Homo sapiens: one gene and its partners. The protein of the gene in region 2 interacts with the protein of the main gene of each other region in a biochemical or structural test. Each region holds a gene or a part of one and is shown on either strand. Other genes may lie near its edges.

Region 1 (7,746 bases), on a different chromosome or scaffold from region 2:
TTTATCTCAGGATGCAAGGATGGTTCGACATATGCAAATAAATAAACATCATACATCACATCAATAGAGTGAAAGACAAAAGCCATATGATCCTCAATAGATGCAGAAAAATCTTTTGATAAAATTTAAGCTCACTTCATGATAGAAACTTCTTACAATTAGGTATAGAAGGAAAGTACTTCAATATAACAAAGGCCACATGTGACAAACTCACAGCAAACATCTTACTAAATTAGAAAAAGTTGGAAGTTTTTCTTCCAAGAACAGGGACAGACAATGATGCTTACTCTCACCACTCTTATTCAATATAGCACTGGAAATCCTAGTCAGAGTCATTAGGCAAGAGAAATAAATAAATGGCATTCATATTCAAGAGAAAGAAGTCAAATTGTTCCTGTTTACAGATGATAATCTCATATATAGAAAGACTCTACCAAAAACTCTTAGAACTAATAAATCATTCAATAAAGTTGCAGGAAACAAAATTAATATACAAACATCAGTAGTGTTTTCTACACAAACAATGAACTAGCTGGAAAAAAAATATCAAGAGGGCAATCCCATTACAACAGCTACAAACAAACAAAAAACAACCTTAGGAAGAAATGTAACCAAGGAGGTGAAAGACCTCTACAAGGAAAACTACAAGACACTGATGAAATAAATGGAAGAGGATACAAACAAATGGAAAGACAACCCATGCTCATGGAGGAGAACTAATATTGTCAAAATGACAACACTATTCAAAGCAACCTACAGATTCAATGCAATTCCTATCAAAATACCCATGACATTCTTCACATAAATAGAAAAAAGTTCTAAACTTTGTATGGAGCCACAAAAGAACCCAAATAGCTAAAGCAAACCTGAGCAAAAAGAACAAAGCTGGAAGTATCACACCACCAAACCTCAAAATACACTACAGAGTTATAGTAACCAAAATAGCATGTTACTAACAAAAGCAGACACATAGGCCAATGGAACAGAATAGAGAATCCAGAAATTAATCCAAATATCTACAGCAAACTGATTTTTGACAAAGGTGCCAAGAATACTCATTGGGGAAAAGACAGTCTCCTGAATAAATGGTTCTGGGCAAACTGGATGTCTATAGAAGAATGAAACTAGGCCCAAACCTCTCACTCTACAAAATTTAACTCAAAATGGATCAAAGACTTAAATATAAGACCCAAAATGATAAAAACTACTAGAAGGAAACATGGGACACACATTTCAGAACACTGGTCTGGGAAATGATTTTGTGAATAAAACCTCAAAAGCACAGGCAACAAAAGCAAAAATAAACAAATGGGATTATCAAACTAGAAAGTTTCTGCACAGCAAAGGAAGCAATCAACAGAGTGAAAAGATAACCTACAGAATTTGAGAAAATATTTGCAAGCTACTAATCTGACAGGTGACTAATATTCAGAATATACAAGGTACTCAAACATCTCAACAGCAAAATATTCAATTTTAAAATGGGTAAATGATTTAAACAGACATTTCACAAAGAAGACATTCAAATGGTCAACAGGTATATGAAAAAATGTTCAACATCACTAATCATCAGTGATGATTTTGCAACTCAAAACCACGATGAGGTATCATCTCACCCCAGTTAGGATGGCTATTATCAAAAAGATGAAAAAACAAATGTTGGCAAGGATGTGGAGTAAAGGGAACTCATGTGTTGTTGGTGGGACTGTAAAGTAGTATAGCCACCATGGAGAACTATATGGAGGTTCCTCAAGAAACTAAAAGTAGAATTACCATATGATCCATCAGTCTCACTTGTGGGTACTTGCCCAAAAGCTTTGAAACCAGTTTGCCTAAGAGATGTCTGCACTGACATGTTTACTGCAGCACTATTCACAATAGCCAAGTTATGGAATCAACCTAAGTGTTCAACAACAGATGAATGGATAAAGAAAATGTGGTATATATACATAATGGAATACTATTCAGCCATAAAATGGAATGAAATCTTGTCATCTGTGGCAACAAGGGTGGAAATGGAGGACATTATGTTAAGTCCATTGTATTTCCTAAACCAGAAACAGAAAGTCAAACACCATATGTTCTCACTCATATGTGGAATAGTAAAAAAAGTTGATCTCATAGAAGTAAAAAGTAGAACAGAGGAAACCAGAGGCCTGGAAGAGTGGGGGAAAGGGAGAGATTTGGTAAAGGATACAAAATTACCACTAGATGAGAGGAATAAGTTCTAATGTTCTATACCACTGTAAGATGGCTCTAATTAACAATAATGTATTAAATAGTTTCAACTAGTTCAAAGGAGGATATTGAACGATCCCAACAAAAGGAAATGATAAATATTTGAGATGATGGATATGCTAATTACCCTGATCTGATCAATATACATTACATGTATAGAAACATCAATATATACCCCATGAATATGCAATTATTATTTGTCAATTTGACAAATAAATTAAAATAAATAGAAGTGTTCACAGGAGACAGTTGGTGTAAGGTAGCAGGCCACATCTGCCACTTACTGGCTGTGAGATTTTGCAGAAGTGACCTATCTTCTCTGAGCCTCAGTTATGCCATCTATAAATGGCATAATAAATGTGAGTTGTCTCATACAGGGTGAGCGCTCAGTGATGTTAACTATTATTATTAAACCTCAGAATTGGGACCTAGAACAAGCATTAAGGAGGCAAAATTTTTGCAGGGCACTAGTAAATATATAAAAACAAGGCTGAGAAATGATTTAATGATAAAAAATGGTGAGAAGCATGACAGGTGTTGCTCTCAGCTGCAGGGAAGCAGTAACAGAGCAGCAACCTCAGGATTTAAATCCTGATTTGTTCACGGACTACCTCTATGACCATGGGAAAATGACTTTATCTCCCTCGGCGTCAGCTCCTTATCAGTAAAAGGGGGTAATGCGGCCAGGCAAAGTGGCTCATGTCTGTAATCCTAGCACTTTGGGAGGCTGAGGCAGGAAGATCGCTTGAGCCCAGGAATTCAAGAGCAGCCTGGGCAATAGAGCAAGACACTGTCTCAATAAAAAAGAAAAATTAAAAAAAAAGATTAATTTAAATAAATAAATAAAAGAAAGGGGTAATGCTAATAATAGTTCTTACTTCATAGGGTTGTAAGGATGAAGTGAGATAATACATGAATGGCACTTAGGTCAGGGCCTGGACCAGAGAAAGTGCCATATTAAGTGTTAGCTGTTGTTATTGCAAAGGCTGACAGAATAAGCTCTCTGAAGTTGTGCAGAGAGGATTCTGCAACACATTTGTTCCTCAAAATCCCAGAGGCCTCAGAGTGCTGAATTAACACGGCCCTCCAGAACAGGGAAGTATCACTGAGAGTTTACTCTTGAGACCCAAGCTGACAACTCAGAGTTTATTTGTAACAGGCTCCAAATGTCATGTCAGAAATGCCAAGCTTTCTAGACCTTCCTGGCCTTCCAAGAACGGTCTTGTGCTTTCAGAATTTTTTTTTCAAAAAGTCAAGGTGAATTAAGTTCTTGGAGATCAAAACAGAAACACAGATAAAAGGAACTGAAATTGTGACATATTTTGAATGTGAAACGGAGCTGGTCTCTGAGCTTCCAGAGGAAGTGGGATGGAGGGGAATGAATCTCACAGGGCCTTGTTTTCATGGACTCAGTGCCTTGGAGAATTTTGCTGCACTGATTTTTCCTCTACCCGGTCACCCACAAAGTGCCTCAAGGAGCCCCCAAAGTATGAGTCACTTCATTGGCCACCAGGCTGGTGACCCTTTGCTTTCTGAATGCCATTTATTTCCACATGCCACTTAACCATGAAGTCAGCACTTTGGGCCATTGGTGAAGAGTTTTCTGGCAGATCTACTGTTATCTCCCAGAGAACAACTTATCCCCAGGGATGTAGCAGGGATTGAAACCTAGCAGAAGTTTGGCATCCAAACATGCCAGGGGACACCTCTGCCCTCAAGAACAAGATGTACAGCATTACCTCAGACCTCCTTCTTCCCACCTCTGTCTTTACTAATTCTCCTTGTTTCCTTCTTTAATAGACTCCAAAAGCTAGCTTCTCTTGCACATTCATCCTACCACTAACATTCAGCCACCAAATAAACAAACAAAAATTCAACTCAACAAAAACATCATATATGAAGAGCCCTGAGCTGCTTAGAGATATGGCTTCATTTTGTTTAAAAACATTATTTTGACTAAATGTTGCCCTCTCTCTGGCTCTCAAAACTTTCCTCAGCTCTCCTTGGTTAATATAACACATGAGTCTATGATGCTGATTATGAATTTAATTTTCGTAAAAATCTCAACAATATGTTTTTCATTTTCTAATGCACTTCATCCTTGTATTTAGAAAGGTTGGCGGTATCTATTATTCACCAAATGTCTGATCTAAGGAAGACCACAGAATCACAGAATTGTTTTTTATCTGAGTCTCTGATTTCCAAGACAGAAGAACAGCAAGTGTTATCATAGAAACATTGTCCTGTTTATTCCAATAAATCCCTACGGATTGATCAACATTAGGGTCCTCCCTGTCCATAATCAAGGTAACTAAATGACATGACTCAGGAGCTCCTCACAAGCCCATTTATTCAAATTAAAACTCCCTCTCATTCTCATTTCCCCTAGACAGCATTTCATATTCCATTATTAAATTCAATTCTTAGAGAAAAGAAATTATTTACAAAGGTAGTTTGTTAAACATCATGTGTATTTCCTAAAATGACATAGAGACATTGCGATATCATGGAAAACCTCTGGAATAAATCCCAACTGAACCCAAATCCTAGCTCTTCCTTGTGCAAACTGTGTGACCATCAGAAAGTACTCAACATCTCAGAGTTATTGAGAGGACCCCAGGAGGCAGCACAGGTGACAGCCAGGGATGCAGCTACACTTTGCCTGGCACCATGCATTGTCATTCCTGTTGCCACCCCACCTGCTGCCAGTGGCATGGGGGCAGTGGGTATCTGAAATCTAAAGGAGAGAGGGCCAGGAGCAAAAGTAAACCATGGGCTCTCCTCCTCTCCTGCTTGTCCTGCTGCCCAGTGTCTCCTCTGTGGCAGACCTGGCCTGTTTACCCAGCAGCCTCCATCAACTTCCTCCTTTCATCTCAGTGGTCAGCTCAAGACCGGCCTAGTACAGGCTGTCATCTTTCACCTGCACAATGGGCACAGCCTCCTCAATGGCTCCCTATCTCCACTCTGGCTGTTCTCAATTCATTTTTCACACAGTGGCCAGAGTGACCTTTCCAAAATGCATATCTGACCACATTACTCTTCCACTTAAAACCCATTATCATCTCAGAGTCAAGTTCATCTCCAGGCTTTTCATAGTATTGATCTTGTTGTCCAGCATATTCTCTCCCCACCATCCCCTCAGTAAAGGACACTCAGTCTCATGAAGCTTATTTCAAAACCCCCAACACTGCAGGCTCTCTCTTGCCCATTTCTTCTGAGCTCCAGCTCATTTCCTGGCTATTGCTTACCCAGTCTCAGGTTTCTTTCTAAACATCACTTTCTTCAGAAAAAGTCTTCTCTGATCCCTCCATGTCTTGGCTGTTTGCAGACCCTTGGGTTTCCCATCCAGCATTTACTCCAGGGGCAGCAGTTGTCTCCTGTCTATCCCTACCCACCAGACTGTTTGCCCATGGAAGGCAAGCACGTGTCTACTGCTGTACCCCAGGCCCTAGCACAGCGTGAAGCACATGAATGTGCTCAGATCAATAAATGAGCTAATGAAGCTGTTATCCAACACCCTCATTTTATGCCTTACAATTAATATCTTTTTGGGGGGCGGGAAAGAACTCACATGGTTTTTATAATGAAATGATGTTAATGTGTTTTTCCTTGAAAATTTTCTTTTCCTGAAATTCAAATCTAAAGTCTGGGAAGAGGAATATAGGGTAAATGGTCAATGGCATGGCATGGGAGCAGAAGGCAGCCACAGAGGGTACCCAGATGGTGCTCTGTTCTAAACACTGTAGGAAGCAGCACCCTTTATATCTTGGAGGGTAGCAGACTGTTTCTCTGACTCTGTGCCAACAAGTTCCCAATAGGGATTTGTGCCTCTTACAACTAAAAGGGAGTCACCTTCATATCTCTCAGTGAATTTACAAAGGAACAGTGAATTTACAAGAGATTTACATATCTCTCAGCGAATTTACCTTATTTTTAAGGTAAGACTCAAAATAAAGAGAAACCAGCTTACTTAAAAGAATCTGGGATACAATGTTATTCAGGTGATGGTTACCCTAAAAGCCTTGACTTGACCACTACACAATTTATGCAATCTATACGTCTAATAAAATTGCATGTGTAATCCATAAATTTATACAAATTTAAAATACTTTAAAAATAATAATTTGACAAAAGAGAAAAAAGAATCTAGGATGCCTTCAAATACTCTTTAGATGATTGTTTTTCTGTACTAGAGGTACAAACAAGGTACGATGCTGTTTCTACAGCCTCATGGCAGGAGACTTACGTGGGAAATTATCTTTTTTATAATAAATTCTTATTTATATAATGTACAATGTAGGTAATAATGGTGGACTAAATTATTTTAATTTCTCCCAGCTTAATTAATATTTAAACTTCCAGAGTAAACCAGCTCCCTTCCCCTCTTTTCCTCTCTCCTTTTCCATCTCTTTCCCTCCTCTCCCCTCTCCTCTACTTCCCTCCTTTCTCTCCTTTCTTCTGTTCTTTCTATAGTCTGCTTCCTGTACTTTTTTGAAACCTCTCCGTTAAGGACTTTACACTAAAGAGGCAAAAAAAACTCTGCCTCTGGTCCCAGCTCTTCCTAAGGACCCTTCCGACTTTGGAATTTCTTGACTCCAACTCACTGCTTAGACCCTTATCCTGGGCCTCTCGAATAATAACTAGATTTCTTTGTCAAAAGACTGACTGTACTGCCACAAAGTCATCAATCCATTGGAAGAGGTTTTCCTTTAAATTCTGTCAAGATTATATTTTCTCCATGGGTCAATTAATATAAAGAGGTTAATAAAGTTCAACAGAGATAAACATTAGCTGTAACTAATAAAGTCTGCATTCATTGGGTGAATTGATTTATTTACACAATGCCTTTATTCTCAATGGAGTTTATGTGCTAGGTTCTATGCAATGACTCCAATGTCAGAGTCTTGGTCCAATAGAACATACTGTACATAAGTAACTGCAGTACAAAGGAGGCAGTGGCCAATACCCTGAGAAATAAAGAAATACAGTGCTAGGGGTTTCTGACATGGATTTCAAAAAGCTCTCTAGCAACGCTGAGCACCCACAGCAAAATGCTTGCCTTTCTTTGTATTATCCAATTTGGCTGCCGCATTAGCCAGAGTTCATTGGGTAATTGCACAATCCCTTGTGAGGCTTTTATCTTAAAGGCTTACCCTTGGGGAACTAGAGTGCCTCAGATATCTGGTGCACAGAGCAAACTATAGAAAAGCAGAAAGGATCTTTGATTCTGGAGTACACAGGAAATGCTAACGATGCCCAAGGTAACCATCATGTACTCATGTACACAGCAATGAGTACACTGAAAAAATATATCATCTTTCCTCCAAAATGGAGGCTGCTCATGTGATCCCAGGTGGATAGGAGGCAGAGTGATATAATGAATGAAAGCATGTGCTTTTGAGTTAAAAGGGACCTGGGTTTAAGTTTCAACTCTGCCTTTTAGTCTCTTTTATTACTGCAGCCGTCTGAGCTTCAAACTCTCATCTGCCAAAGGAGCACTGGAGTGAG
Region 2 (7,746 bases):
GCAGCAAGTGCTGGGGCCAAGGCAGGGGCCAGGGCTCACCTTCCATCTGCGTCACTGTCTCGTAGCTCAGAACCGAGTCTTCTCGACCTGGTGGGAGGTGGGGCATCTGCAAGGGGCTCTGAAACAGGGGACCTGGAGCCCTGTCTCCCCCTTGAGGATATCAAAAGCAACTCAGTGCTCCTCTCACCCACATCTTCCCGAACTAACCCTACCTACCCTGCGATCCAGAGCTGGAGCCCCAGTCCTAAGAAGAAAAAGCAGGCCACGGGGTTAGTTATGAGCTCAGCTCCATGAGCCCTCACACTTCCACCCAGGCTCACACCCTCCTCCACCTACCTTGGCCTTTAACCTTGACCACTCTCGTCGCTCAACCCTGTGGGATACATGGAGGGATACGCGGGTAGGGGAATGCCTACCCCCTGCCACCCCCATGCTCTGAGCCAGCTGACAACCCCTTCTCCATACTCTGGGCCAGCTGACACCCCTTCTCCTGCAGCCCTGGACACTGTGCTCCTCAATAAGGAGTTGTCCTTCCCAAAGGCTCATGGGAGCCACGGACCCCAGGAGGGCCCAACAGACAAACCCCTAGGAGTTCAGAGGGCAAACCCATCCCCTGTTGGCTGCCCACCCCGGGGGACCTTGGGAACTTCAGTGCCTGTGGCAGGAAGGCTACAGAGCCCAGGAGCCTCACCGCCGTTTGCTGGGGATGAACCCAATGTCGTCGGTCTCACTGTCAGAGTGGACCCGCCGTGCCTGCCACCACTCCTCATCACTAGCATCGATGACATGCAGCACATCCCCAAAGCGGAAGCTCAGGGCCTGGCTCAGGAAGCCGCAGTCCTTGGTCTTGTCGTAATCAAACAGGGCCCTGGAGGGCAAGTGGCTATCGGTCAGAGCCCAGCTGAGGACTCCAGGAAGGATGCCCCAGTCACCCAAAGACCCGGCCCAGAGGTCTGCAGATGGCACTCCCATGGGAGCTATGGATGCCGAGGAACCCAAAACTGTGTGGGGACCAAACGCTGACTATAACTCATAACAACTATTAGCCATCACTCAGTCCACACTGAGCACAGTTTCCAGAGGCAGGGCTTGAACTTGACCCTCTCAAGAAAGCAGTTTGGGCCAGGCGTGGTGGCTCCCACCTGGAATCCCAGCTGACTTTGGGAGGCCAAGGCGGGCGGATCACAAGGTCAGGAGATTGAGACCATGGTGAAACCCCGTCTCTACTAAAAATACAAAATATTAGCCGGGCACGGTGGCGGGTGCCTGTATTCCCAGCTTCTCGGGAGGCTGAGGCAGGAAAATGGCATGAACCCAGGAGGCGGAGCTTGCAGTGAGCAGAGATCACGCCACTGCACTCCAGCCTGGGCAACGGAGCGAGACACCGTCTCAAAAAAAAAAAAAAAGAAAAAGAAAAAGAAAAACAGAAAGCAGTGTGCAGTACACACGCACATCATAAAGTCACAGGGGTAACCCTGAATCTGCCCAAATTCATAAGAAAAAGAAAATGTCCCGTGTTTCCAAATAATGGTTACCCTTACCAGTATCAAATTTCTATCAGTAAGTCACAACCCCTGGGGTCAGAACCAGGGAAGTAATGAAGACACAGAAGAAAGCAATGGGCCTGGAGAGGAGGGAGGAGACCCCGGGCCCCCTGGAAGTGTGACAACCAGATGACATTCCGCCTGGGAGCCACTACACAACCTCTGTGGTCACTGGGAGTCAGAACAACCTTGGGGACCAACCGGACCCGAGCAGGGAGGAAGGGCAGAGCAAGGGCTCAGGTGGGAGCCAGTGTCTGGGTGGCTGGTGATGCCATCCAACAAGAGGGAAACTGCTGGCACAGCAAGATGGAACCCAGGCCCACAGCAGGATGATGAGCTCAGCGTGGGACATGTTGAGTGTGGGACGCCTGTGGGACATCCCAGTGGAGATGGCCAGAAAGCCAATGGCCAGAAGTGCAGGTCTTGACCTCTGGAAATAGGTCAGCCAGGGCCAGCACCTCCGAGAGACATCTGCAGAGCGCAGCGGCAGACGAGGCCATGCAAGCCACAGGGCCAGACAGGGACAGAAGTGGAGGGGTGACCCCCGGGGGCGGGAGAGAGGTGTGTTTTGGCAGAAACCTAAGCCACAAAAAGAGTCAATGGAGACGAGCCCTAAGAGGGGAGCAAAATGCCGCTGGAGAGACGGGGGCAGGCACCACAGAGCTGCGGCCCACGTCTCCGGGACTGCCCACAGGGACGTGAAGGCTGGGGCAACACTCCAAATACCCTAGAGGACCCTGCTTCACCAAGCATTAACCTTCGAGACGCCAAATTGTGGGGTGGCCTGGGAGTCCCGGGGAAGTGCTGGGATGACCAGGGGCTAGAAGGCAATTGGGATACTTGGGGCAGAGGCTATTTTCCCATCGACAGGGAGTATTTCAAATGTTAACCTGTGCAGCCAAGCCCATGAACCCTGGCTGCGCCTCAGGCCTGGGGTGGGGAGCTAGAGCAGGCAGGGTGGAGAAGAGGAGCGGCTGAGGCCCGGGCCAGGCACAGAGTGCCCAGGAACGCAGAGGGGCTGAGGAGTCCAGCCCGGGAAGCCTCTGACCTGATGTAGAAACCCCTTTTGGGGTTGCTCCGCAGGGACGCAGTCCCTGAGCCCAGGCTGCTGTTCATGAGCTGTTCCCGAAGGTCGTGGATCTTGGCCTCGAATCGGCTGTACTCTGAGGAAGGACAGGGAGGTTTCTGAGCTCTGTCCCCATCCTACTGTCACCCCTGTCCTCCCCTACTGAAGCCATCAGCTGAGGAAGAGTTCTAAGGGCCATTTCAGCTCACAAGACAAGGAACTTCCGGCCTGGTACCTTCTGGTTTATACTGAGCGATGATCGTGACCGTCTGACCCGCATTCTTCAGGGCAATGGCAGCCTGCTCATGGCTGGCATTTCGGAGGTCCACACCGTTGACCTAGAGAGAGGACGACAGGCTGTGTCACCAGAGACAGGAGGCAGCACTTCTGGGTCCAGGTGGAGCAGGGAGTGGTCCCGCAAGAGGACTCGGCTGCAGCCCATCCAGGCCCCTCCCCAAGAGCTCTGCGCTCTGCCCTGTGGGGAGGGGGTGGTGCAGGTAGGGGCAGGCCTTCCCTCACCGACAGGATCTGGTCCCCCTTCCGCAGCTCCCCACTGAGGTCTGCAGGGCCCCCGGCCAGGATAAAGGAGATGAAGATGCCTTCACCGTCCTCGCCACCCACGATGTTGAAGCCCAGGCCCGTGGAGCCCCGGTGGATCACAATTCGCCTCGGTTCTCGGGGAATGTCTTCCTCCCCGAGCAGGTCCTTGGCCACTGGAGAGTAGCGCCGAGGGGAAGTGGGGGTCATGGCTGTGGGGTAGTCGGTGCCCAGGTAGCTGCTGTGACTGATCTCATTGTCCAGGTGCTGGGAATAAGCTGAGGAAGACAGGGCAGAGATGAAAGTGCCTGGAGGGAAACAGCACCCGCCACCCAACCTTCTCCCCAGGGTGCCAGAAGAGCCAAAGTTAGGTGGAAGGGAAGATATTCTGCCAGAGATGCCAGGGTGGGGTGGTAAGGGGATATCAGATCACAGTGACATCAGGGGTCAGGAATTTATAGGTGACATCAGAGGCTGGTTGTCCTAGGGGATAAAGGATTTGAACGTTATATGTCCTCAGTATGCCAGGGATGGGGAAGTCAAAGGGAGCATTAATATTACGCTTTGGGGGTTTTCTCTGGGTTCCTGTGTCACTCGAATCTCTTAATCCATAAAATTCTTCTCCCTCTTTTTTCCCCCCACCTCTCTGCCATCCATTCGTTGAAAAAACTAGGTCATTTGTCTAAAAGAATTTCCCACATTCTATGAGGGAAATTCTTTTGTTTTTTTGGGGTTTTTTTGAGAAGGAGTCTCAGGCTGGAGTGCAGTGCCGTGATCTTGGCTCACTGCAGCCTCTGCCTCCCAGGTTCAAGTGATTCTCATGCCTCAGCCTCCCAAGTAGCTGGGATTACAGGCGCGCGCCACCATGCCCAGCTAATTTTTGTATTTTTAGTAGAGACAGTGTTTCACCATGTTGTCCAGGCTGGTCTGGAACTTCTGAACTCAAATGATCCACCCGCTTATGCCTCCCAAAGTGCTGGGATTACAGGCATGAGCCACCTTGACCAGCCTATGAGGGAAATTCTAACAGGGAAATTACTGCTTACCCTCCTGTGGTTTGTTTAGCCTATGCCTCTGCCCCTGTATCTCCTGTAAACTGGCAGTTCATTCTGGAGGCTTGATCAGTTTCAAGTTCAATTCAGAGTTTTTTTTAGTAACTCCTGTATACTTCATAGGTAGCGCTACGTTCTTCCTACAGCATCACCACAGGATGCAATAATGCCTGGTTGTCTTTCTGTCAGGTAAGATTAATGGTAGGTTCAGGGTCATCAGCCCAGTCCATCCATTATCTAGCGCCCCATCAGCCTTTCAGGTAAGTTTTAGCCACACTGACAATCACCGCCTGGTTCTGATAAGTATCAAGGACTGCAAAATGGTGGTGATTGTCATTTACTAGTGGGAATTCTTCTGTAAAAAAGAAAAATCTCGACCAGGCACGATGGCTCATGCCTGTAATCCCAGCACTGTGGAGGCCAAGGCAGGCAGATCACTTGAGGTTAAGACTTTGAGACCAGCCTGGCTAACATGGTGAAATCCCGTCTCTACTAAAAATACAAAAATAGGCTGGGCGTGCTGGCTTACGTCTATAATCTCAGGTACTCGGGAGGCTGAGGCAGGAGAATTGCTTGAACCCAGGAGGCGGAGGTTGCAAGGAGCCAAGATTGTGCCACTGCACTCCAGCCTGGGTGACAGAGCGAGACTCCCTCTCAAAAAAAAAAAAAAAAAATTCCTCCAGCTTGGGTAACATGGTGAAACCCTATCTCTACAAAAGACAAAAGTTGAAAGTTAGCTGAGGCTGGGCGCAGTGGCTCACGCCTGTAATCCCAGCACTTTGGGAGGCCGAGGCAGGTGGATCACAAGGTCAGGAGTTCAAAACCAGCCTGGCCAAGATGGTGAAATCCCATCTGTACTAAAAGTACAAAAATTAGCTGGGCGCAGTGGCAGGGCCCTGTAATCCCAGCTACTCGGGAGGCTGAGGCAGGAGAATTGCTGGAACCCGGGCGGCAGAGGTTGCAGTGAGCCAAGATCGTGCCACTGCACTCCAGCCTGGGTGACAGAGTGAGACTCCATCTCAAAAAAAAAAAAAAAAAAGTTAGCTGAGCATGATGGCACTCGCCTGTAATCCCAGCTACTCGGGAGGCTGAGGTGGGAGGATCGCTTGAGCCCAGGAGGCGGAAGTTGCAGTGAGCCAAGATCACACCACTGCACTCCAGCCTGCTGGGTGACAAAGCAAGACCTGCCTCCAACAAAAAAAAAGCAAAAACAAAAACAAAAAAACAGCCCTATGTCAACCTGTTGGTTACTCTCTGAGGTAGCTGGTACATGAAAGGGAGGATAAATGCATGCCTCTCTCTGCATGCCTCTTTCCATTCATTCACCAATTTCAGAATGAATGAGATTGCCTAGCATCCTCCAATTTTTTTTTTAATTATTTATTTTTTTGGGATGGAGTTTCACTCTTGTCGCCCAGGCTGGTGTGCAGTGGTGCGATCTTGGCTCACTGCAACCTCTGCCTCCCAGGTTCAAGGGATTCTCCCACCTCAACCTCTCCAGCAGCTAGGATTACAGGCACCCACCACCACGCCTGGCTAATTTTTTGTATTTTTAGTAGAGACGGGGTTTCGCCATGTTGGGCGGGCTGGTCTCGAACTCCTGACCTCAGGTGATCCGCCTGCCTCAACCTCCCAAAGTGCTGAGATTACAGGCATGAGCCACCGCGCCCAGCCAAAATATTTTTAAGTATTATTATGATCTTAAAGATTTTAATATATTTAACGAGTTTTCACTGGACAGTAGAAGCACCTTCAGTTTGGATCCTGTGTCTTTGCTGAGACCCTATTAGTCCTGGATACCTTCCTTGCTCTCTAGTATGAAAGAAGTTAGAAGCTCATCTTACAGATTTATTGCCAAAGATTTTAAATTGGCTGGGCACGGTGGCTCAGGCCTGTAATCCCAGCACTTTGGGAGGCCGAGGTGGGGGGATCATGAGGTCAGGAGATCAAGACCATCCTGGCTATCACGGTGAAACCCCATCTCTACTAAAATATACAAAAAAATTAGCCAGGCGTGGTGGTGGGCACCTGTAGTCCCAGCTACTCGGGAGGCTGAGGCAGGAGAATGGCATGAACCCGGGAGGCGGAGCTTGCAGTGAGCCAAGATCGTGCCACTGCACTCCAGCCTGGGCGACAGAGCGAGACTCCGTCTCAAAAAAAAAAAAAAAAGAAAAGAAAAAAAAAGATTTTAAATTGACCCTTCTTCCAAGGAGCCCAGGTTCCTTTTGTTAGGTTATGGTATTTAGGAATAGTACCACATGATTTTAATATGGTTTTACAGTATTATTTCATATTTTGTAGGGGCTGCCACACCTCATTATTTGTTTCCAAAATGTCTTAGCTTTTCCACACAAATTTTTCCAGTCAAACTTTAGTGTCAACCTTCCAAGTTCCCAGTAGGGAAACAACATTAAAATTCTGATTAGGATTGAATGGAATGTAGATTAATTTGGAGCCGGTTGAGATCTTTAGCATATTAAGTTTTTCCATCCAGAGACACGGTGTGACTCCTCACCCCTTCCAGTCTTGTTTTATGTCTTTCAGTAAAGTTTTGTCATTTTCTTCATACAAATCTTACATTTCTTGTCAAGTTTCTATTTCTAATAATTTTATAGAAATTTTTTCTATGGCAAAAGGGGGCTTTTTATTCACTACATTTTCTTATTGCTGGGAAGTTACTAATTCCTGTTATTTATCTTACAAATAGCCACATTCCTTTTTTTTTTTGTCGTTTTTTGAGACAGAGTTTCACTCTTGTTGCCCAGGCTGGAGTGCAATGGCGCGATCTCAGCTCGCCGCAACCTCCGCCTCCCAGGTTCAAGCAATTCTCCTGCCTCAGCCTCCTGAGTAGCTGGGATTGCAGGCATGCACCACCATGCCCGGCTAATTTTGTATTTTTAGTAGAGATGGGGTTTCTCCATGTTGGTTAGGCTGGTCTCGAACTCCCAACCTCAGGTGACTCACCCATCTCGGCCTCCCAAAGTGCTGGGATTACAGGCATGAGCCACCGGCGCGCCCAGCCTGTTTTGGTTTTTTTTTTTTTTTTTTTTTGAGATGGAGTCTCGCTCTATCGCCCAGGCTGGAGTGCAGTGGTGAGATCTTGGCTCACTGCAAGCTCCGCCTCCCAGGGTCAAGGAATTCTCCTGTCTCAGCCTCAGGATTAGCTGGTATTACAGGCGCTCGCCACCACACCCAGCTAATTTTTTTTTGTATTTTTAGTAGAGACAGCGTTTCTCCATGTTGGCCAGGCTGTTCTCAAACTCCTGACCTCAGGTGATCCGCCCGCCTTGGCCTCCCAAAGTGTTGGGATTACAGGCATGAGCCACCTCGCCCAGCCAACAAATAGCCACATTCTTAACTTTGCATATTTTTCCAGTTAATTCACTTAGATTTTGATCTAGATGCACAGTAGTATAATTTACAAATAGAGATAACTTTTGTTTTTCCCTTCCAAATGTAACTATTCTCCTTGTCTTGTTACACTGTCTGAAATCTCTAAAGCAGTGATTCTCAACCACCATAATTTCGCTGGGGCAATTCTGTCATA
Region 3 (8,455 bases), on a different chromosome or scaffold from region 2:
TGCTAAGTGGGGCTTTTTTGTTTGCTTGCCTTTGTTTTTTAAACATCGGTCAGTAGCTTGCTCTTATTAACGCAGTTTTGGTTAGCAGTGGTGCAATTGGCAGTTCTGATATTGACCTGTCTATAATGGGCTATGCTATTATTCATATCCTCTTCGATCTCCATGTACTCAGACTTGCTCATAGTAGAGGAACTGCGGCGACTGAGGTCACTGTCAGAGGCTAAGTTAGGGGAACTGACGTGGAGCAACTGAGCCTGCTCTTCCCCCTCAGTTTCTCGGTGGTAGAAATAGTTGAAATTGGACACAATGACAGGTACGGGCAGGGCAATTGTTAGCACACCAGCGATGGCACACAAGGAGCCCACGATCTTGCCTCCAATTGTCACAGGGTACATGTCACCGTATCCTACAGTGGTCATGGACACCACCGCCCACCAGAAAGCATCGGGGATACTGGAGAAGTGCGACTCAGCTTCTTCCGCCTCGGCAAAGTACACTGCACTAGAAAACAGGATGACCCCGATGAAGAGGAAAAAGATGAGCAGCCCTAGCTCTCTCATACTAGCTTTGAGGGTCTGGCCCAGGATCTGGAGGCCCTTAGAGTGGCGGGAGAGCTTGAAGATTCTAAAAACCCTTACCAAGCGGATGACCCTGAGGATGGCCAGGGAGGTGGCCTGCTCGCCCTTCTGGTTTCCTTCCTGCTCAGCTATCTCGGTGCCCAGCGTGATGAAATAAGGAATGATGGCCACAATGTCTATGAAGTTCATGATGTTTTTGAAGAAGTCCGTCTTGCTGGGGCAGGCGAAGAAGCGCACCACCAGCTCGAAGGAGAACCAGATGATACACAGCGTTTCCACGATGAAGAAGGGGTCTGTGAAGATGTTGGAATTGTAGATGACCGTGGTGTTGTCGATGCGGTGGACGGTGCCCGTGAAGTCCTTGTCATCCTTCAGCTCGGGGAGCGTCTCCAGGCAAAAGATGACGATGGAGATGAGGATGACCATGACGGAGACGATGGCGATGACCCTGGCGGGCCCCGAGCTCTCGGGGTACTCGAAGAGCAGCCACACCTGGCGCTGGTACTCCTTCTCGGGCAGAGGGCGCTCCTCCTCCTTGATGAAGCCCTCGTCCTCCCGGAACTTCTCCATGGCCTCCTCGCCCAACTCGTAAAACTTGATCTCCTCGGAGAACATGTCCAGGGGCACGTTGACCGGCCTCCGCAGGCGGCCGCCGGACTGGTAGTAGTAGAGGATGGCGTCGAAGCTGGGCCGGTTGCGGTCGAAGAAGTACTCGTTCCTCAGGGGGTCGAAGTAGCGCATGCGTTTCTTAGGGTTGCCCAGCAGCGTGTTGGGGAACTGCGCCAGGGTCTTGAGCTGCGTCTCGAAGCGCAGCCCGGAGATGTTGATCACCACGCGCTCGCAGCACTCGTGGTCGTCGTGGTCGGCCTGCCGGGGGTAGCTGCCATCCTGGGGGTGGCCCGGGGCGGCCGAAGCCTCGTCCACGTTCTCCCCAGACATCACCGTCATGGTGGAAGCCGGGCGCGGGGGTGGGAGGCCAGGAGAGAGCCCGGGGTGGGAAGCAGCCAGGGACCAGGGGTGGGGGGGACCCAAGCGGCCCCCCCACCGGAGCGCGCGTCTCCCTCACGCCCAGGGGGAGGTGCTTCAACACGAGCAGGTCGGGAGATCTGCGACTTTGCCTCTCGCTGCCTTCCCCTCCACCCTGCCTTTCACTCAGTTTGGAATCCCCCTCGCCTGCGGGCCGGGTGCAGCTTTTTGCAGAGGGTTGGGTTTGGGTTTGGGGGTTTGTTGGTTTTCTGTTGTTGTTGTTTAGATATTTCTTCCTGATCCCAGGTGCCTTAACGCAGTGCCGTTCTAGCGGACTGGGCCATTGCTTCGGGGGTCGCCCTGGCCTCCCCTCCCCTCCGAGAGCCTTCCTAGGACCCGGTGCAGTGCCGGCTCGGCAGATCCCCACGCCTGCCACCCTCTCTGCTTCTCCTCGGCTCTCCCCCCTCCTACCCCTCTTCGCCTGCCGCCTTCTAAGCTCCCACCAGGGCGATCGATGCACGCTGCAGAGAAATAGAAAGTGATACGGGGGTAGAAAATCAGAAGCATTCAGATGGGACGGACCTACAGACACCGAAGAACACAGACCTCTAGCTTGAGAAAGCACTGGACGTTTGCTAGGGCTATCACACACACACGGACAGACGACACGCAGACACCCGGAAATCCAAGTTTGGGGCTCTTCCATCCCACTTTCCCCAATGCCCAACAGCCGATCTGTTTACAACTTCGTTAAACTAGAGATCGGAAAAGCGCCGAGAGACGCCGGGGGAAGCTCAGGGTCCCGGACAGCATCCCCGCACCCCCGGCCTCCCCCACCCGGTCCCCCCAACCCCCGCTTCTGCATCCCCGAGCTGGGGAACCCCCTACCTGGCCGGCTGGCTTGGCGCAGGGGCGGTGCTGAGTCAGCGGAGAGCCCGAGTGGGAATGCGGCAGGTCGTCTTTGCAGTGCCCTGGCGGGAGCCGCGGCGGCCGCCGCAGCAGCATCCGAGACGCGCCGGGCAAACTCGCCGCCCTGGTCCACTCGTCCGACGCCCCTCTCAGTTGGACAATCGCTTTACGGAGCAGCTACGGCGAAAATGTTCCTTCCCTACCCCCATTCTCACCGGTTGCCAGCAACCTGGAGACGCCGTCCTCTCTCCGGTGCAGGGAGTTCCGGAGGATGCGGGGCGGAAAAGCAAAATACCACCCTCTCTCGAAGCTCCGAGGCAAATGACGATAAACAGCACTCTCGCCCCCTCCTAACACTATGGGAGCCCTTGATTCGATCCCGAAGGAGGCGGGCGGGCGAGAGCCTGGATCTACATGGCTCTCCAGTTCCCTTCGCTCTCCGCACCCCAGCGCGGACCTCGCCAAGGCTACGCGGCGCGCCAGGAGCCCTTAGGAGCTTGGAGTGGAGCAGGGTGCGTGCGGCGGCGGGTCCGCTCGGTCCATTTCTGGGCGCTGCAAGATCAGCAGAAACCTGAGAAAGCGCCTGGAATACCGAGCAGCGATTGGCCCACCCGGGCGTGGGTTGGGGAGGGCGGGGGAGGGCAGGAGCGAGGAGGTGGATGGAAAATATGAGGGGGTGGTTTGGAAGAGAGCGGGGTTGTCATTCAGTTCCCACCCTTGCCAGCACAGCTTTTTCCTCTCCTACCAGAAAAGCCGACCGCTAACTCTACTTCCCCTGTGGCCCGCCGCCCCGCCCACGAACGGCCCCTAGCGGCTCGCGACCTTCCCCGGGAATTTCACATTGGAAATGGTCAGGTCCGACGCAATGCAGGCGGTGGTGTTTCTGGCAAAACTCCTCCGACGGGTTTGCTTTTGTGCAGTCCCACAGTAACCCTCTTCGATCGCACTGCTCTGCGCCCCATCCCGCTCCTCCCCCAAGAAGGCCCTTGCTCTCTGCGGGGCCCACCCAGCTTCCCCCGCCGGCTGGACTCGCAGAGCTGCAGACTTTGGGCAGAGCTGTGCAGATGAGGATCCCTGGGTTTGTTCCATGTAGTTTTACTGGGCGGCGGCGGTACTAAGAGCCTGTCCCTCTTTAACCTACGATGGGACTTGAAGTTTTCTTACGATCCGATTATTCTGAAATACAGGGAATGTGACTTGTGGGGGACCGAAGGCTTCGTGGGTTTGTGGGGTTGTCTGCCAACTTGGTGCTAATTGGGAATAATCTGAGAAGCAAGTCGCCTACTCACCTCCCACCCTATGTCCCTCCTCCCGCAGCCTTTTTCCCCAGCCTAGTGCCTCCACAGGGCCACTTTCAAAGCTTGCAATTTATTTGGAAAGGGTCCCCCGCAGAGGCGCATGGCAGCAGGAGCCGGGGGCGTGTGCCTTGCCCTGCGAGTGCGGCTGGAGCTGCGCCCCCAGAGGCGCTGCATCTCCGCGCCTGCAGCGCGAGAAAAGGCAGCAGGCAGCTTGGTACCTCCAGGGCTGCGGAGTCTCTAAGGAGGCTGCAAGAGCCCAGAGTCGCCGCTGATTGGCTCCTCCCGCGGCCTTGGGACCACCCTTCTCACCACCGTTGCCTCCCGCCTACACCACCCACCTCCTTAATCAAAGCCAATGATTGCATCCTTCCCGCTCTATTGTGGCTAGTGGAAAGCAGGGGCCCCTGCGGGATTGCCCAGGCAGTGCAACAGTCCCTGTCTGGAACTAGTTAAATCCTTCCTCCAGATTCAGACGCCAGCATTCCTTTCAGAAAAACAAAAGTGTATGTTCCCTCCCCTCCTTCAGATCCGTACCCCAGCTTTTCTTTCATGAACAATGAGTTCTCTTATACTCCTCCTTCCCATATTAAACTCTTCCCCTTTCCCACCTTCCACACGCATATCCCTCAATCTCAATAGCTCCAGGGATCCCTACCTTTCTGCACTGCTGTTCTAATGCAAATAAATATATTTTTTAAAAAAATTTAAAAATAAAAACAAAGATATAAATATGAAGCTCCCAGCTGAAGTACTGCCAAGTCTTTTGGTTTTGTTGCTGCTGCCACTGCTAGAACCCTACTGGGGATAACCCTACGAGACAAGGGTTTTCTGACCATATCCTAGCACTACTGAGCTTCCCTATTCTCCACTTTATCTGTCCTTATCTTGTACCTCCCTCTTCCTATAACCCATTGCCTTCCTTTAAATGTCCCTAAGACTGTCATCTTCCTAGCTTCTTGTGAATGCATGTGCCCTGACTCAGCATTAGGAGATTGCCTTACTACAAGGGATTCACAGATTGGATGAGATCCCAGGTTCCTAAATTCCGGGTTTTATTGGGGGGCATATTAGGAAATCTTCCACATCTCTGATAGATGTGTTTACAGCAGGACTGGACCTCCAAGGGACTGGAAGAAAATTGTGAGCTGGGAACTCAGCATTCTCCTCCTCCTCCTCCTTCTTCCTCTTCCTCTTCTTCCTCTTGTTCTTCTTTGAGACAGAGTGTAGTAGTGTAATCATAGCTCACCGCAACCTTGAAGTATTGGGCTCAAACAATCCTCCCACCTTAGCCTCTGGAGTAACTGGGAGGACAACAGGCACAAGCCATCACTCCTGGCTAACTGGAACTCAGCATTCTTGATGGAAGTCCTCCCTTGGTAAGGGTCTGAAGATATTTATTAATTCAACAAATATTTGCCCAGCCCCAGCTATGGGCCAGATGGTGCCCTTGCACTGGAATGGAGACATATAAGGTCCCAGGTCTCATGGAGCTCATATTCTGGTGGGAGATACAGACAATAAACATATACGTCATACATTATAGTGTTAGATAAAGAAAATTAAGAATCAGGCACAGCAAGTGACAAATATAGGTTTGCAGATAAGAAGGGCCTCTCTGCAGAAGTAACATTTGAACAAAAAACATCAAGAAGAGAGAGCAAGGAACAGGAAGATGAAAGGATGGGTGTAAGAGCAAAGGTCCCAAGGCAAGGACAGACTCAGCATATTCAGGAAACAAGAGAGCCAGTATGGCCAGAAAGAAGTCACTGAGAAAGAATGTCATCAAAGGTAGGTCAGAAAGGCAGGCAGAGCCCAGATCATGCAGGGCCTCTAAGGCTATGGTAAGAATAGTTCATTTCATTCTGAGTACAATGGGAACCTACTGGAGGATATGCATCAATATAGCAATATGATTTGCATTTCTTGGAGATTATTCTGGCTACTAGAAACAAGACACAAGGTTGGAGGTTACTAAGTAGCATAAGCAATGTTGGCTTAGATGAGGGAGACTGTGGTGAGCTTGTAAGGAGTTTTTGGAAGAGAATTACATTTTGAAATAGAGATGGCAGAATTTGGGATGTGAGGAAAGAAAAGTTTTAGGACTGTCTCCTAGGCTTGTGGCCTTAATAACCAGATAAATGGTAATATCATTTACTGCAGGAGTGTCCCAAACAGTTTCGCTCCTACCTAGATGTGAGTTCCTTGAAGTCTGAGATCTTCTGTGTCTTCTGAGATCTTCTGTGTTGGGCAGCTTAGGAGCTCCTTGAAGTCTGAGACCTTGTGTGTCTTAGTTGTCACTGTATTGGGCAGCGTAGGCCATCTCCTCAGATTCTCTCCAGCTCACCATTGTCTTGTCCAATGGCCACTTGCCCCACTGCAGGTGCTGCTGGAAAAGTCAACTCGATGGGTGGCAGAGTTCTGCCTCTTGAAGTTGACAGCACTGCAAGGAGTGGAATCTGGATTCCTCAAGACTGCAAAAAGGCCTAGGTGAGTAACACAAACCTAGGGGTGCATTAGCTCAATGGACCAAGAGGAGCTTGCCCAGTGGGAGATGCAAGCTAGGATGGAGCTCGTCGGTAAATCCCCTCTACCTTTATTATTTTCATGGCCAAGCAACCACATGGTCTAATGAAAAGGCTGTGTCTCTTTGTGACTCATGAAGCAGTAACTAGTTTGGTAACTCTTCTCCTTGGATCTGCACCCTGTCCTTCCCTGTCTCACTCTCCTTTTCTCTTCCTCTCATGGTTCTGGCTTCACACCTCCCATTAAAGCATTCGCACATAATCCTGTCTTGGGTTATGCTTTCTAGGGAAGCTGAGCTGAGGCATGGGGAATCACAACTTTGGTTTGGGACATGTTACCTTTGAGATACCTAGAAATATGCAAATGAGGATGTTGAGTAGAAAGTTAAACATACAAGGTTAGAGTTCAGAGAAGAGGTCTGGGTAGATCAAGGTTTCTCAACTTTAGCACATTTGGGCTGAATACTTTTTATTGTTGTGGGGTGTGGTCCTGTGGATTTTAGTATATTCAGCAGCTTCCCTTGCTTCCAGCCATTAGATGCCAGTAGCACCTTCCCCTAGTTGTGACAACCAAAAGTGTTTCCAGACAATGCAAAAATCACCCTCAGCTGAGAACCACTTGGGTAATTAAAGCCAGAGTAGCAGATTACAGAGATTACAGCACTTGAACCTGAGGGTAGAAAAGGAAGAGGAAATATGCAGAGATCATGCCTTGGGACGCTCTAATGCTGAGAGGTCGATAAAAGAAGGAAGAGCCACCAAAGGAAACTGAGAAGGAGTGATGATGAGGTGAACAAAACAGGAGAATGTGGGGTCTGCAAAACCAAATGAGAACAGTATGTTAAGAAGAAGGGAGATATCAACATTGTTGCTTACTGCCAGTAAGATGAGTAGAATGAGGAACATAGAAATGACTATCAGATTTAGAAAAATTGAGTTGAAAAGAGATTGAGAGAGAACTGAGGACAGTAGGTAAAAACAGCTCTTGGAGTTTTGGTGCCCAGGGGAACAGAAGAATGGGGTAGTAGACTGAAGGAAGATGATGAGTGATGAGACTTTTTTTAAAAAAATGATGAAATCTATTACAATATGTTTGTATGCTAAGGGCAATGACTCAGTAGAAAGAAAAGAAATAGTGATGTGGTAGAAAGAGAAAAATCAGAGCAATGTTCTTGAGAAAGCAAAAGGAGAATGGAATCTAAGACCCAAAATAAGGGATTGGCCTTGGAAAAGGGCAATTTCTCTATAGAAATGGGAGAGAGACAGAGAGCAGAAGTCAGCTGCAAGTAATTGAGTAGAAGTTGTGGGAGTTAGTGGACATTCACCTATGCAATCAGAAGAAATTTTCTCAGTAAAAAGGAAAGCAAGGTCATCAGCTGAAAGTGAGGATGGGGAAGGAGGCCTTAGAAATAGGAGGGGTGGCCAGACGTGGTGGCTCATGCCTGCAATCCCAGCACTTTGGAAGGCCAAAGTGGGTGGATCACTGGAGGTCAGGAGTTCAAGACCAGCCTGGCCAACATGGTGAAATCTGTCTCAACTAAAAATACAAAAATTAGCTGGGTATGGTAGCGTGCACCTGTAGTCCCAGCTACTTGGGAGTCTGAGGCAAGAGAATCACTTTAACCCAGGAGGCGGAGGTTGCAGTGAGCCAAGATTGAGCCACTGCACTCCAGCCTGGGCAACAGAGCAAGACCCCATCTCCGAAAAAAGAAAAAAGCAAATAAAAGAAAAGAAATGGGAGGGGAAAACTGCAAAATAACCACTTAGGAGAATTGGAAAGTGAAAGGGTTGGGGAATGTAGCAGGGTTGCCTGGCAGCACCGAGGGCTCACTTGTGGTGAGGAACCATGCAATTAAGTAATTGGGCACTGGGTGTCTGAGATTAACTTGGAAGTGAGTCAGGATAGAATTCGTCCTGATGATCATTTATGAAAAAATGTGCACTCGTTCTACATGTAGTGTCCTTCTTAAGATCAGTTTCTTAAGTGTTATACAGTGGTAAGGCAAGAGACGGCATGAAGGGAGGTGGTCATACTAGGCAGGAATATGCCCACGGACTCACTATAGACCCTGTTGAGGGCAGTGTCACAAGCAGAGGAATGGGGGTCTTACAAGATTTGAAGTATAATTGTAAAAAGTAATATAGAACAAGTAGGACTTGAAAGGGAAAACTCAGAAGTCAC
Region 4 (8,249 bases), on a different chromosome or scaffold from region 2:
TTCCTTTATATAATACAATAAAGCAGACAGAAGAATTAGGTTATGAAAAGACAGAGAGATAGTGAGCATCTAACCAAATAGGATTCAGTTGAAAAATTTTTTTTTATCCATTTAATTCCATGGACCATGTTCATGGCAGTTTTGTATCAGGAGAGGATCTTGGGTGGTTTAAGGAGGGATCTGTATAAGAATTGAATTCTCAGAAAGGATATGACAGGGAAGAAAAAGAGAATCTAACCTTATGATGATGTATGTGGGTACATTTTTTAGGCACAAGATATATCTGGAAAGGAAATGAACAGTTCAACAAATAGAAAAATTACAGAATTTTGAGGATTGATGATAACCTAAGGATTTTATCCAACACTTTTGATTTAGAGGTGAAGGGTTTGAGTCCCAGAGCAGTTAACAACTTGATTTTGGTCACAGAGCTAGTTATCAGCAGAGAACTGTAGAACTTCTGCACATGTCAGTGCTTTTCCACATTATGTTCCAGGACATAATTCATACAAGTTAATTGTGTATTTAATATTTATTTTAATGCAATAACCCACTCACATTGTGATTTTAATTCAGCATATTTTAAAATCTGTTTTTAGGACATTTGAGGACAAGAGACAGGCAGGAAAAGTGTTTCAGTGGAAATAGCATGGGCTTAGTAGTCAGGATTGGAATTCTGACTTTAATATTTATCAGCTCCATGACATTGGAAGATATTTTAAATCTCTGTGCCAGAATTTCCATAACTTTATAATTGGAAAAATATGTCCTATTATGTTGGGATTAAGAATCCCAATTTAAATAAAGTGTATAGAGACCTGGGATTGTTGAGTATGCAGACAAAAAGGCTGAGAGTTGTAGGAGACTGTGGTGCTGATATTAGTATTCAAACTGTTGACTAATAGGGTCTCTTCTTAAGAGGAGGATGGATTCCTGTGGTGCATGGTTGAATGTAAAGCCACTTAAGGAGAGAGTAGTGTCTGCCAGAGGCACCAACATACACTGATCACCTGCCTCTTTCTTGCTGTCATGGATTTGATGCATCAAAAAAAAGTCAGTTATTACACCCTTAAGTATCTTTCTGGGTCACAAATTCTACTAAGTGTAGCATTGACTTTGTTGCTTGTCTTTCTTTCTTTCCTCCTTTCCCCCAGCCTTCTCCTCCTCTATCCTTTTTTGAGCAGCAAGAATCCTACCCCTTTGGGATGGTTTTATGATAAAATATAACTATAGGACAATGGATTACATTGTCTTCTATGTGTCCCTTTATATGTGAACACAGCAGATGGTTCTTCTCACTTTGATATTATCCTTAATATTTAGTTTTACTTACAAAATTGTGCAACAATATGAAGTACAGTATCTCTTATTTGCTGCCAGTCTTTCTCAGAGAAAGCACATTTGCCCTCCTTAATATTTAGTTTTACTTACAAAATTGTGCAACAATATGAAGTACAGTATCTCTTATTTGCTGCCAGTATTTCTCAGAGAAAGCACATTTGCCCTCTTGTAAAAGAGGGGGTATGTTAAGTGTGAGAGAGTAGACAGATCTCATTCACGAACACAAACATAGGGTTAAACTAGCAGGTGAACAGTGTGAAGTGTGTGTGTGTGTATGTGTGTGTGATTTTCCAGGTTAGGGATCCAGAAAAACTTGCCCTAGTTAAGGATTCACCAGCTACTATATTTCTTTAGAAAACTTGCTTTAATATTACATGTACAATTCCTGTGAATTGCCAGATTTATGTAAAGAATGACAGGGAGAAATTCTTCAGTCTTCTATCAGGATAGAGCTCTGCTCCAGGGAACGCTTATGCAAATCTTGCAGATTTTCTTGCTGGAGTGTTAGATGAAAAGAAACTAGTAAAGAGTTTGAACCTGGGAAACGCAAAGAATTTTGGGAAGGAGGACTGATTGTGGTTTTGATTTGAATTTGACACACGTGACTTTTCTTCAACAACTTCTCTGAGAAGGATGAAAATCAGGTTAAATGAGGCTATATAAGTGAAAGGGTTTATAAATAGGATTGATTTATGTGAAGGGAAGGCACGCACAAACAATAGTTACTTTATGTTTCAATGTAAAATAGTCATCGTCTTGACTAAAGTGAAGAATCTGTTTTTTTAGGAAGTCTTTCCCAATGCTTGATCAATCTGAGTTGTCAGGTGCCTACGCCAACTTCACAAATAAACCAAGAATATTTCTGCATTTTTCTTTTCCAGTTGGAGAGTGGCCTTTAAATACTTTATTGAAATACAATATATCCAGCAGGGCTGGATTTGTGGGTATGAGCTTGGGCAAGCTTCTTTTCCTAAAATCAGAGCACAGACTATTCATTCTCAGCAGACTACTCTTCCTAAAGTATTTAGATTGCTTTTGCTAACTGTAAGCCTTCTTCTTCTTCTTTTTTTTTAATGGAGAATAGCTATGCTTCATTTTAAAAATGTCAATTCTAGTATAAACACAGCACTCTTCATATTGAGAGCTTTTGAACCCCGCTCCTGAACAGAAATACAAAGGAAACCCTTGAAAGCAAAGCAGATGTTGTACTGGCTATATCTAGGCCTTGATTTGTTTATAGTTTAAAAATCCATGGGAAAATAATGATCAAAGGCAGGGTGTAATTCATAGAGAAAATTGTAAGACGACTTCATCTGGCTAGATTCTGTAAAGAGTCTTTGATTCAAATGGTTCACACAAAGAAAAAATGTCCCATAGGTTCAGAGTTCTTTCTGGCAATAAACTTCCAGTGTAAACAGGAAGGCTCTTGGGCCTCTTACAAATTTTAGAAACAAATGATACTCATTGCCTTGCACTCAATAATTTTGACTTTGAGACAAGAGTTGGAATGGTTAATAAAAAGTTCCAATTCTAAGTTCAATATGAAGTTTATTTGCCGTTACCATAATATTTATTTGTGTGCGCAGCAGTTTATTGAAAGAATGTGAAGGACACATGCTATTTAGTATATTTAATACTAACTAAAATCCTATAATTCGAAAGAACTTGACTATTATATAATCAGTACCAAAGAAGAGAACTAGGAACTCCAATCCTTTATGCTGATTGATACTGTGTAGCAGAAATATTAAACAATTACCCCAAAGTTAGAATAATGTAATTTTCATTATAATTTAGAAAAAGGGGCTAGTGAAACTTTTTTAGCAAAACTGATGATTTTTTATGATTAAAAGTGTAATTTGAGTCTAATTTTCAATGGACACAAATGCACATAGAATTAATTGAAGTAATGGGGAAATCAATAGTAGATGCACAACAGTTTAAATAATAATTGTAACAATTATTATTTTAAAAGAAACTTCCTCAGGATGAGAAAGAATACATATATATAAGAATATATATTATATATATTCTTTCTCATATGTATATGTATATACATATACATATATATACACACACATATATATATATATATATATATATATATAATTTGAAGGGGGAGTGTCTGAGTGATAGTACACACTTTTCTATCTTTAAAGCCCATTTAAGATCTGGGGAAAAAGGTATGTCTCTGAACCAGTTTGAGTGGATTTTTCCAAATGAAACCTCAAATAGCATTTATATTTAAGCCCTAACAAACACTTGGGAAGATTTGAAGTTAAAAGCAAATTGTGGTGGGGGTACAGCACAGGTTTTGTGGTTTGGTTTTGTTTTGCTTTTTAAATAAACACAGTCCACAAAAACCCATCTGCCTTCACCTGGAAGGACCAGTTCTTTAATTAAAAAAACGCTTTGGCTTCGGTTTCACTGGGAAACTAAAGCCAGAGCCCCTAAACTTTTCTCTCCGCAGATCGGGTGAGCTGGGGAGGGTGCTCATCCACTTCATTGCAGGGGGAAGTACAGCCTGGAACCCCTTTCGGGATACTGTCATTTGCCCCTTCTTCCCATCTCTTACTCTATCCTCAGAACCAGTATGAGAGTTTTCTGGGGCTAAGGCAAGGGGCAGTGGGGTCAGGCGCTGGAAGGACTGGTTTGCAAAGAGATAAGCTTTGGAATGAAGCCGCACAGCTGAAAACTCGCGGCAAGACATGCTCGCGCTGTGGCGAGTCAGTTCGAGAAGCATTTATCCCTACTCCCCTTAGCTTTCTGAGCAGCATTTGCAGTCAGGTGCAAACAGATCGCATATTTGGCGCAAAGAGCCCTGAGGATGAGGGACGTGGGATCATTCCCCGGTTTCCCCCGGGCCAGGTGCTAGGTCGTTTGAGGAGGAACTGTTCTCCAGTTCTCAACGCCTGCAAAGGCGGCTATAGGTGGCAAGCGGAGCTGTCCAGCACTAGTGAGGAGCCAGCGGAGCCGGGAGCCCCGCGCACCCCGCCCGGCTGAGGCTCAGCAACAGTGCTGTCTTGTCAGAGCAGACGCTGTCCTCACTGCCGCCCCTTTCTGGGCTCGCTCCGCGCCCACACGGCCTCGCACGAGGCGGGGAACACAAGTCCCCAGGAGCTGCTCCAGCAGGATGGGCGCCAAAATGTTGCCCCTGTCCTTCCCTTCCCCTGAAAGCGTCTCCTCTGGAGTGGGCTGGCTGGACGCTTGGCCTTTCCCTTTTGCCTCGGAACTTCCTAAATAAACTCGGAGAAAGGACAACATGGACCCTAACCCCCACTTCACACTGTCAGGTTTCCCCAAGGTGGCTCCAGGGGGAGGCCTCTCGCCCCCCAGCCCCGAGCCCTTCTCCCCACCAGCGCCGCCGGGACCCATCTGCTCCCGAGGGCCGAGGATAAGGCGTTTGGGGTTGGGGCCCTCAGTCCGACCCGAGCTCCTGTGCGCACCTCCTCGGAGCAGGGAGGGCGCGCAGAGGACAGCAACGAAGTGTCCTCGTTGCTCCTGAAACGTGGCGACAGGCGAGGCAGAGACTCCCAATGAGTATGATGGCGACACGTGATTCCCGCGGAGGGAGAGCATGGGGGGGGGCGGGGGGATAAAGGGAGAAGGAGGGAGGCAGGGCAGCAAGTGGAGAGAGGCGGGAGCAGAGAGGGAAAGGGGGCGAGATAGGCGCGCAGGCGGCAGAAGCCTCTGCCTCTGCCTCCCCTTCTGCTTGGGCCGCAGCCCTCCCCGCCCCGCCGACCGCGGTCACACACTCTCGGAGCCTCCCCGTGAGCGGGAGCGCGGCGCACGGCGATGCGCCGAGGCGGGCGCTGAGGCGGCGCCGCGCGAGCAGCAGCAGAGGCGGCGGCGGCCCCCAGCCCAGCCCGGCGCCGCCGCCGAGCCCGGGCCCCAAGGTGCGGCGGCGCCCCAAGTTCCCGCCATGAGCAGCCGGCTCGGGGGGCTCCGCGGCCCCGGGGACTCCCGCCCCGCCGGGCGCGACCGCAGCGCCCCGCGGCCCCGACGCGCTTAACGTTGTCGCTTGCCGGTCCCGCCACCGCCGCCTCCGCCGCCGCTCGCGTCCTCGCCGCCACCGCCTCGGCCGCTGCAGCTCCGCCGGCAGCATGTCTCGAAGGAAGATTTCGTCCGAGTCCTTCAGCTCCCTGGGCTCCGACTACCTGGAGACCAGCCCGGAGGAGGAGGGGGAGTGCCCCCTGTCTAGGCTCTGCTGGAATGGCAGCCGGAGCCCGCCCGGGCCGCTGGAGCCCAGCCCGGCCGCAGCTGCCGCTGCCGCCGCCCCGGCCCCGACCCCGGCTGCTTCTGCCGCCGCCGCCGCTGCCACTGCCGGGGCCAGGAGGGTGCAGCGCCGGAGGCGGGTCAACCTGGACTCGCTGGGCGAGAGCATCAGCCGCCTGACGGCGCCCTCGGTGAGCGGGGGGCGGAAGGGGGGACCGCCTTCGGGGGAGAGAACGCGGATCTGTAAAGTTGGCGCTGGGCGAGCCGGGGCGCGAGCGCAGAGCCCGACCGCTGGGGGGCGGCCCGGCCTTACCCTGCACGGCCTAGGGTTCCAGTGGCTCCGGCGACAGAGGATCCCCTAGGCTAGGGCGGAAGAGGGGACTACAGCACTGGGAAGGAATAAGATTCCACTCCTTTGGGGTATCCTGATTCGGGGGCCTGTCTGCCCACCTCTAGCCTTGAACCCTACTTCACCACTGTTCCCCCTGGACAGCCCCAGTGCTGCTTCACACCCACCTGTTTTCTTTCCCCTAAACTTTCCCAGGCACTGTGTTCTGCAGTTCAGCTTCCCTGTCTTTCATCCTGTTCTCCAGCATCCCAAAGGAGCCCCAACCCCTTCCAGGAAACCCTTCCTCTCCTTATTTCCCACACTCTCTTGGTCTTAGCGTGACCTTCTCTGACATCTTTGAATTCCACAGGCTATCTGCATTCTATGTTGCATCCTTTTTCTCACATCTTCAGATACTTTTTGCCAGATACTTTTCTGAGTTGCCTTCTGTTCAAGTAATCTCTAATCTCGAGTTGTCCTCACCCCGTAGCTTTTTTTCTTTTTCTTTCTTATCCACTAGGCATTTATTCTTCTCTGGGTAAACCTGGTGTCTGGATTTCTTTTTTTTTAAATTAAATTTAATTTAAAGTCCCGGGTTACATGTGCAGGATGTGCAGATTTGTTACATAGGTACCAAACGTGTGCCATGGTGGTTTGCTGCACCTACTAACTCATCACCTAGGTATTAAGCTTCGCATGCATTAGCTATTTAAACCGCTCTGTACTTCTTGCACCTGTACCTCATCCTTTACTCTCTCCTCAATGGATTCTCTAGTGCTTTCTCTCTCACATTAGCTATTTAAACCTCTCTGTACTTCTTGCACCTGTACCTCATCCTTTACTCTCTCCTCAATGGATTCTCTAGTGCTTTCTCTCTCACATTAGCTATTTAAACCGCTCTGTACTTCTTGCACCTGCACCTCATCCTTTACTCTCTCTTCAATTGATTCTCTAGTGCTTTCTCTCTCATTTTTTGGTGGCTTCTTTATATTAGGCCCTTCCTAAATATTTGTGGAATGAATAAATGCCTCTCCAAACTTGTGGTCATCTTGGGATGTCTGTATCAGCAGTTTCAGGTGTACAACAAACTCCCCCTGGTTGTAGGCATCCTTCCAGAGGAGTACTGCCTTATTCCTGCCCAGGCATTTCAGCTACCCTTGGCTTTTACCTCTTGCAGGAATGCCAGACCTCTGATCCAATCTTACCGTGTCTGGGAGAGCTCTGTTTTAAAGAAATCCACTCTGTTGCAGACAGAATTTGAAAAAGATTCAGCGTCAAACCTCCACCCATCTTTTATGCTCACCCTGACCTTGGATACAAGAGCTTTAGCTCCTCCTGACAGCACTTTCACCTGCCCACCCCTAGGACTTTTACTTTTTTAAAGTTTCCGAAATGAATCTGAACACTGATCTTGTTTGATTACTGTTGAGTCTCTCTTTTGAGATTACTACTGCAAATGATGGTAGGGGGGACCTAAGAAGGAGTGGAACCCTGAGGGGACTGAGTACGGGTACCAGACAGGTCTACAAATATTCTTGTGGCACTTGTATTAATGGAGAATGATTTTTTTCTTTTACGAGACCTGATTGAAGATGTATAAATCACTTATTACATTATTTATTTTGAACTAATTTAATTCTTAGGAACACATATTGAGAAACAGTCATCTTCCTATTCTTGTGTATTTTCGTATTTGATATATCTTTCTGCCACTTTTTCTTTCATCATTAACCTAGAAAACAATCCTCAGAATAGATTGGCTACTCTTTGCTGTTCTTCCCTGCCAATATTTCCCAGGCAGCGTAATTTTATAAACTATTTGATGTTGCAAATTGTTGAAAATATTTATTTACAACAGGAGTCCAATGACCCCGAGCGTCTGTAGGCTTGTGTCAGTACTTAAAGCAACATTTGTGCAATAAAATAGTTATTTAGTACAACAGATTCTTATTTAATGAAATGATTTTGCTAAAGATAATGATTAGTTTGGGGAGAATTGTTGATATAACCTTGGAGGTTTTTTTTTTTTTTTTTTTTTTTTTTTTTTTTTTTTTGCCTAAGAGAATTTACAGATTTCTAAAAAGTAATGTCAATGCCTCTGATAATGCTAATTTAAGCTAAGACTATTTTCAACAACTTACATGAGGAGTAGATAAAAGAAACTGAGAAATGCAGTATTTTCTGCTAGAATAAGAGGAAGGAAATAGTCTCTGATGGTTACTTTTATAAGTTAAATTTGAATGACTGGCTTTTTGCTGGATGAAAAGAATGTATCCAGAGAATGGTTTTCAGAATAAGCAATTTAAAAATAATTGTGATGATCAAATAAATGCAACAGCTCTATATACTTTCCATGCCATAGTTG

What was found.
Region 1: the proteins of DLG4 (region 2) and CYSLTR2 interact in a biophysical measurement, tested with the Homo sapiens proteins (2 studies listed by IntAct, with this or other methods).
Region 3: the proteins of DLG4 (region 2) and KCNA1 form a complex in vitro, tested with the Homo sapiens proteins (3 studies listed by BioGRID and IntAct, with this or other methods).
Region 4: the proteins of DLG4 (region 2) and GUCY1A2 interact in a test that uses a peptide from one of them, tested with the Homo sapiens proteins (2 studies listed by IntAct, with this or other methods).

Annotation. Positions count from the first base shown.
Region 1 is NC_000013.11:48,656,425-48,664,170, reverse strand, and holds part of CYSLTR2 (cysteinyl leukotriene receptor 2), read right to left. Parts: intron 1-7,746. UniProt on the Homo sapiens protein: Receptor for cysteinyl leukotrienes. The response is mediated via a G-protein that activates a phosphatidylinositol-calcium second messenger system.
Region 2 is NC_000017.11:7,193,628-7,201,373, forward strand, and holds part of DLG4 (disks large homolog 4), read right to left. Parts: intron 3,426-7,746; coding exon 3,130-3,425; intron 2,949-3,129; coding exon 2,846-2,948; intron 2,708-2,845; coding exon 2,593-2,707; intron 869-2,592; coding exon 692-868; intron 374-691; coding exon 337-373; intron 245-336; coding exon 217-244; intron 88-216; coding exon 40-87; intron 1-39. UniProt on the Homo sapiens protein: Postsynaptic scaffolding protein that plays a critical role in synaptogenesis and synaptic plasticity by providing a platform for the postsynaptic clustering of crucial synaptic proteins.
Region 3 is NC_000012.12:4,904,450-4,912,904, reverse strand, and holds the start of KCNA1 (potassium voltage-gated channel subfamily A member 1), read right to left. Parts: upstream 3,001-8,455; 5' UTR 2,433-3,000; intron 2,066-2,432; 5' UTR 1,527-2,065; coding exon 39-1,526; 3' UTR 1-38. UniProt on the Homo sapiens protein: Voltage-gated potassium channel that mediates transmembrane potassium transport in excitable membranes, primarily in the brain and the central nervous system, but also in the kidney.
Region 4 is NC_000011.10:107,015,251-107,023,499, reverse strand, and holds the start of GUCY1A2 (guanylate cyclase soluble subunit alpha-2), read left to right. Parts: upstream 1-5,023; 5' UTR 5,024-5,444; coding exon 5,445-5,747; intron 5,748-8,249. UniProt on the Homo sapiens protein: Has guanylyl cyclase on binding to the beta-1 subunit. Isoform 2 acts as a negative regulator of guanylyl cyclase activity as it forms non-functional heterodimers with the beta subunits.